Homo sapiens: one gene and its partner. The protein of the gene in region 2 interacts with the protein of the main gene of each other region in a pairwise test. Each region holds a gene or a part of one and is shown on either strand. Other genes may lie near its edges.

What was found.
Region 1: the proteins of ZNF613 (region 2) and CARD10 interact in binary tests that used the Homo sapiens proteins (3 or more experiments, as listed by UniProt).

What each region holds. Positions count from the first base shown.
Region 1 is NC_000022.11:37,492,458-37,495,553, reverse strand, and holds part of CARD10 (caspase recruitment domain-containing protein 10), read left to right. Parts: coding exon 1-37; intron 38-1,365; coding exon 1,366-1,468; intron 1,469-2,751; coding exon 2,752-2,910; intron 2,911-3,003; coding exon 3,004-3,096. UniProt on the Homo sapiens protein: Scaffold protein that plays an important role in mediating the activation of NF-kappa-B via BCL10 or EGFR.
Region 2 is NC_000019.10:51,940,845-51,944,663, reverse strand, and holds part of ZNF613 (zinc finger protein 613), read right to left. Parts: intron 546-3,819; coding exon 1-545. UniProt on the Homo sapiens protein: May be involved in transcriptional regulation.

The DNA of each region.
Region 1 (3,096 bases), on a different chromosome or scaffold from region 2:
CCTGCCCTCCAGCCGGCACCGAGGCCCCCGCAGTAATGTGAGCACGGCTGGGCAGGTAGTGGGTGGGGGGCCCCAAGGGTGGGGTCCAAAAGGGAGCTAGCAGGCTCTGTTCTCTGGCAACCTAGGAAGACACTCCCTCCCTCCTTCCCTGGTGATTTAATTGGTCATCTACTATGTGCCCAGCAAACAGAACAGCAGAGCTCACCGTCCAGGGTAGTTTAGAGATGAAATGAGGTAAAGCGTGCCTAGTATGCAGGAGTACCCCTGGTACATAATAAGCATTTGACAGGCTGGGCACAGTGGCTCACGCCTGTAATCCCAGCACTTTGGGAGGCCGAGGTGGGCGGATCACAAGGTCAGGAGATCGAGACCATCCTGGCTAACACGGTGAAACCCCGTCTCTACTGAAAATACAAAAACAAAATTAGCCGGGCGTGGTGGCGGGTGCCTGTAGTCTCAGCTACTTGGGAGGCTGAGGCGGGAGAATGAAGTGAACCCGGGAGGCGGAGCTTGCAGTGAGCCAAGATCGCGCCACTGCACTCCAGCCTGGGCCACAGGGCAAGACTCCGTTTCAAAAAAAAAAACAAAAAAAACAAACCAGCAGTCATGTCCCCTTTTCCAATGCCTGGATGGTGGCTGGGCTTCGTGGCCAGCGCTGCTGTGCACATGGGCAAGTGAGGCTCAGAGCCATCAGATAAAGGAAGAGCGAGGGCCCCAGCCAGGCAGCCTGCATTCGACCCCAGCTCTGCCACCTATCAGCTGTGTGACTTTGGACAATCACCTGAACCTTCCTTGAGGCTTGTTTCCTCATCTGTAAAGTGCGGGGGTTGTACTGCCTGTCAGGCTGTGCGTGGCAGGAGATGACTTCCGTGAGTTAGTGCCCCTCAGGGGCTTAGTGAGTGTCTGTCATGTTGTAGGCATTTGAGACCTGTCAGGTATTGGTAAAATCAGTGCCATCTTTATTGGTTTCATTAATTTTTCTACCAAGGTCACATTGCTAATTCATTGGAAGAGACCCTAAAGTTTGCCTCGTATGTGACATTTGGTTCCTCTTGGTCTCTGGGCCTCAGTCTCCCCATCTGTAGCTTGGGGGGTATACCTAAGGCTCCTCCACCAGGCTCAGACGGGCTGGCTTCCCGGGGGCCACAGGGATGGCTGCTCTCATCTGCCTGGGGGACTGTGCTGGGCTGGGGAGGGGCAGGGGAGGGCCTGGTGGAGAAGGACATCTTTGCTGACCCAGGCTCTTCTGGCAAGCCTGGACCACAGTGGCAGTGGGGCCCGCTGTGCCAGGGGTCCCGTTTCCTCCTCTCCCTGAGGGGGCGGGGCTGAGCTCTCAGATGCTCCTCTGTCCCTGCACCCTCCCAGCTGAAGAAGAGAGCCCTGGACCAGCTGCGGCTGGTGAGGCCCAAGCCCGTGGGGGCGCCTGCAGGGGACTCCCCGGATCAGCTGCTGCTGGAGCCCTGTGCAGGTGAGTGCGCGGGGGCAAAGCTGTATCCCGTGTTGCTCCCATTGTCCAGGGATGTGTGCAGCTGAGTGTCCTTTAGCTTGGGTGGCCTCTTTGGCCTGGAAGGGCCTGTTGTGAGGGTTCCAACAGGAGTGGGGGTCATGCTGGGGGCCTGAGAGACAAGACCACCCCACCTGCCATGGTGATTGCCAAGGTTGAGGGAGACCCTGCGGGGAGGTGCATGCAGACGTGGCTGTGACTGTGGGTTTGCACACATACTGGCTTGTTCTTTTCTGGCAGAGTGTGTGTAGTGGTGCTTCTCACACGTGTGTGGTGGCAGGTGCTGTGAGGACCCAGGGGGGTTCCCGGAGGCAGTAGGGTGAGGCCTTAGGCCAGACAGGTAGAAGGGGCTGGGGGAGCTCAGATGAGGGAGTAGCAAATCTGGGGCAAGAGGAGCGGGTAGTTAGGGAAGACTTCCTGGAAGAGAGGGAGTTTCCGCGGGGGCCTTCAAAGTTAAAGAGGAGTTCGTTCCAGGCAGAAGGCACAGAGGCATGGCTGTGTGTGGTGTGCTTGGAGGGTGTTGGGGACAGCAGGTGAGTATTGAGTACCAGCTCTGTCAGGCATTGGGGACGTGACTGTCCCTGCCCTCATGGAGCTTGCTGTCTAATTAGGGGGTAGAGAGTCAGATAATCCCACCTATGAACACAATGAGAGAGTGTGAGGTGTGCAGTGGAGAACTGGGGGCCGTGGGGCACATGCCAGGGGCCCTGATGTCTGGGGACCAGGGAAGGTGTGACCTAGGCTCTGAAGGGAGGGCAAGGGTTAACTGGGCTGAGTGGTGCAGGGCTGGGGCTTTGGGCAGCCCCAGGGCATGCAAAGGCCCTGTGGTTGGACGCAGCTGAAGGGAGAGTGGAGGCTGGTGGTGTGGGGTCAGTGGCTGGCAGCCTCCCCAGGCTCTCAGGCAGGACTGTGTCACCCACGTGGGGGATGTGGCTTTTATTCCTGAGAATCTGGGAAGTCACTGGTGTGTTGAAAGCAGGGGAGTTAACATGATCTGATTTGCTTTTTAAAGCCTCTCTGGCTGCTGGATGGAGAATGACCCGTAGGGGGCAGGGATGAGGCAGAGAATCAGGGAGGAGCCTACTGCCACCGTCGGTCCTACTAAGGGTGTGTGTGTGTGCATGTGTAGGAGGAGCAGCAGCAGGACTTAGGAAGGGATGGGTGGCGGGGTGGGTTTTGGGGTATCGACGAGCTGGTATGCTGCCTGCCTGTGCCCTTATCTCTTTTGCGCCCCTCCCCTGCCACAGAGCCGGAGCGGAGCCTCAGACCCTACAGTTTGGTGCGGCCGCTACTGGTGTCTGCCCTGCGGCCCGTGGTGCTGTTGCCTGAGTGCCTGGCGCCCCGGCTCATCCGTAACCTGCTAGACCTGCCCAGCTCCCGGCTGGACTTCCAAGTGTGCCCAGCGGGTGAGACTATGTGCCGGGGAGGGGAGGCTGGGTGCCCCTCTGGGCAGCCGGGCCCATGGATCCTTCATCTCTCCCTCTCCACTCCCTGTGCAGAAAGCCTCTCTGGGGAGGAACTGTGCCCATCCTCAGCGCCTGGAGCCCCCAAGGCTCAGCCTGCCACCCCTGGGCTAGGCAGCAGGATCCGGG
Region 2 (3,819 bases):
ATAGGGTTTCTCTCCTGTGTGGTTTCTCTGGTGTTCAGTGAGCCCGGACTTTCTGGAGAAGGCTTTCCCACATATACTGCATCCATGAGGTTTCTCCCCAGTGTGAACTCTCTGATGATAGATGAGGCGAGACTTCTTGAGGAAAGCCTTCCCACACTCAGTGCATACATGGGGTTTATCTATGTTTTGAGTTCGCTGATGCTTAATGAATTGTGAATTTGTATTCACAGAATTTCCACCTTCGGGGAAGTTCATTTCATTATGAAATTGTTCATGCTTGGCATGAAGGAAGGATTTCCCATCTCCATTAACCCCCACAGAATTCTTGATTTCATACCTTTTGTTCTGGTTGACTAAACTTAAATTTGATTTCAGTATTTTCCCATGTAAGTCAAATGTATCATGATTTTGCCTTAAAGGAAAATCACTTTTCCTCTGATGAATGATGTTTCCAAATGCATTATGTTTATGGCATTGTTCCACTCTCTTCAGACATCTTTGCTTTTGTGAGTGCATCTGTAGATGATTGTCAACTTTCTTGATTTCTAGGAAAGAAGAGAACAATAAATCTTTCCATGAGCATGGAATAGAACTATTTCACAAACAGTCTTGTACAGGCTGGCTCTACTGACCACACTATTTCCACTGTTTAAAAAACTCCAAGTAGATATGCCTATTGTCACTTGGACAAGAATAAACCATTATAATTTAAACAAAGAAAACAAAAAATAAAAGCAGTCAGTGTATAAACAAGGTAAATTTCTCAGGAAATGGCAAGTTAATTCCTGCTCGGACTCATGCCAGAAACCTTACTATCATCTTTCATTTGTATGTTTGTCTCACACCCTTTGTCTACTTCAGTAGTAAATTCCTTATGTCTTTTATAAATATACAGTAATCCCTCATCTATGGGCGATATGTTCCAAGACACCCCCCACACCATGGATGCCTGAAACTCTGAATCATACTTAACCCTATATCCATTATGTTTTTTCCTGTACAGTGCATACATACCTATAATAAAGTTTACAAACTAGGCACAGCAAGAGATTAACAATAACAAATAATAAAATAGAAGAATTATAACAATAGGCCAGCATCACACTCTTGAGCTTTGGAAGCATTATTAAGTAAAACAAAGGTTACTTGAACACAAGCACTGTGATACCTTGACAGTTGATCTGATAACCAAGATGGCTACTAAGTGACACAGGTGGGTAGGGTACACAGCATGCATATGCTGGACAAAAAATGATTCCTGTTCCAGGATGGAGCAAGATGGTGCAAGATTTCATGCTCCTTGGAATGGTGAGCAATGTAATTAAGAATTGTTTATTTCTAGAATTTCCCATTTAACATTTTCAGACCATAGTTGACCACAGGTAGCTGAAACTGTAGAAAGAGAAACTGTGGATAACAGGGGACTCCTGTATTCTGAAACTCACTAACACTCACCCCTTCTACCTAGATGGAAGAGAATCACTCTTTCTGGTACTATAGCAATAGCCTCCCAAGTGGACTTCAGGCTTCAACCTCTGCCTTCTCCTGTATACTTTCTACAAAGTAGTCAAAGTGATCCTTTTAAATATAAATGACATCATGTCACTCTTCTACTCAAAACTCCCTCATGTTTCCTCATCTCATAATTTTTTAAAAAATCAAGTCATGGCCGGATGCAGTGGCTCACGCCTGTAATCCCAGCACTTTGGGAGGCCGAGGCACGTGGATCATGAGGTCAGGAGATCAAGACCATCCTGGCCAACATGGTGAAACTCTGTCTCTACTAAAAATACAAAAAGTAGCCAGGAGCGGTGGCTTACGCCTGTAGTCCCAGCGACTTGGGAGGCTGAAGCAGGAGAATCGCTTGAACCAGGGAGGCAGAGGTTGCAGTGAGCTGAGATCACAGCACTGCACTCCAGCCTGGAGACAGAGAGAGACTCTGTGCCAAAAAAAAAAAAAAAAATCAAGTCATTAAAATGTCCTTGAAAGGTCATACATGACCTGTCTACCCCAAACTCCAGATCCCACCACACTGTCCTTACTTCCGTATTATCTCCGACCACTGCCCCTCTTGTTCACTCCTCTGTATTCACACAGGCTTCCTTGAAGTTCCTCAAACACACACCTGCCTTGGGCCTTTGGACCTGCTATTTTGTCTACTTGGAAGGTAATTCACCAGGGGGACGTATTCATGTCTGTCATACAGCTGCTCAAAGGCATCTGACCAAACAGCCATTCCCACTCCCGGCATCCCTCATTATACTTTGTTATTGGTCTTCCCAGCATTTTTCACCACAAGACATTTATCCATTTTGATTAATTTTGTGCCTCTTCCTTTTAGCAGGTAATCTCCAAGAAGAATTTTGTTGTTGTTATTGATGTTCACAGCTGTCAGGGCCCATATGTAATAGTCTATCAAAAAATATTTAAGGCAATGAAACAAGGAAAGTAAGGGACACACTGCGGAAACTACTTCAAATGTAGTGCTTTATATATAGTTGGCTTTGAATTTATGAAAAGGAAAAGGAAAACAAACTCTGTGTAGGCAAGATGATACCATATCATGGTGATTCAACTAGAATATCACCTGACAGATGAGAAATTTCCATCTTATATGACTGCTATGATTCACTGGGACTCAGTGCCATCAGACTATGGTAAGAACAGAAAAGCTTTAAGGGAATAAGTCCAGCAATATAATTTAAGAGAAACTAAATAATAGGCAGAATTAATGATTCCAAAAGGAAATTGAAGCAAAGCAGGCATGAGGTGTAGTAATCTGGTTTGGGTTGGAAAGAGAATGAGACTACTTCAAAAATCAATTGAAAGAGCAAAGACTTTAAATACGGTAGCTGAGGAGGCAGGGAAGTTTCAAGGTAACCCTGTGGTGGCCAGGATCGACTCAAGGAGTTGACATGCAAGTGGGTAAAAAATAGGTACAAACATGTAAGTTAGGAAATATTAAGGGAGATGTCAATCTGAGAATCTCCATAGAGAACAAGAACTTAAGTCATTAGAATGAAGGAAACTTTTAAAGGATATGAGAACAGAGCAAAATAAATGGGAAACAGAACCTCTGGAGGACCTCAGAGTGGGAGAAAAAAGAGAAGCTAAGGAAGCAAATATATGCAAAGCAACAGACCAGGTTACTAAGGGGGCACAGAGTCCAAGATAGGGTGGGAAGACCTTTGGAAAAAAAAAATCAACATTATCTAAAGGGGCAGAAAGGTATAGTGGTCAGGAGAGAGTGCTGATATCCAAGACCACTCTTTGGAGACAGACATGGAAGGAGGAATTTCATAGCAAGAGAAGTAGAAGGAACAGGTAGTGATGCTCTGATGGGGGAACAAGAAATGATGAGATTTGAGAATCCTAAAAAGGAAGAAACCTTGAGAAAAACAAATCAAACCTAGATTAAATAAAGAGTGATGAGGCCGGGTGTGGTGGCTCACACCTGTAATCCCAGCACTTTGGGAGGCCAAAGCAGGTGGATCACCAGAGGTCAGGAGTTTGAGACCATCTTGGTCAACTTGGTGAAACCCCGTCTCCACTGAAAATACAAAAAAATTAGCTGGGCGTAGTGGCGGGTGCCTGTGATCCCAGCTACTGGGAAGACAGAGGCAGGAGAATCGCTTGAACTGGGAGGTAGAGGATGCAGTGAGCCAAGATTGCACCACTGGGCTCTAGCCTGGGTGACAGAGTGAGACTCCATCTCAAAAAATAAATAAATAAAATAAAATAAATAAAAAATAAACAGTGATGAAATCCAAGACGCGATAACGAAGCAGATGTTCCTCTAAATACCCGAAGGAGAAAGAG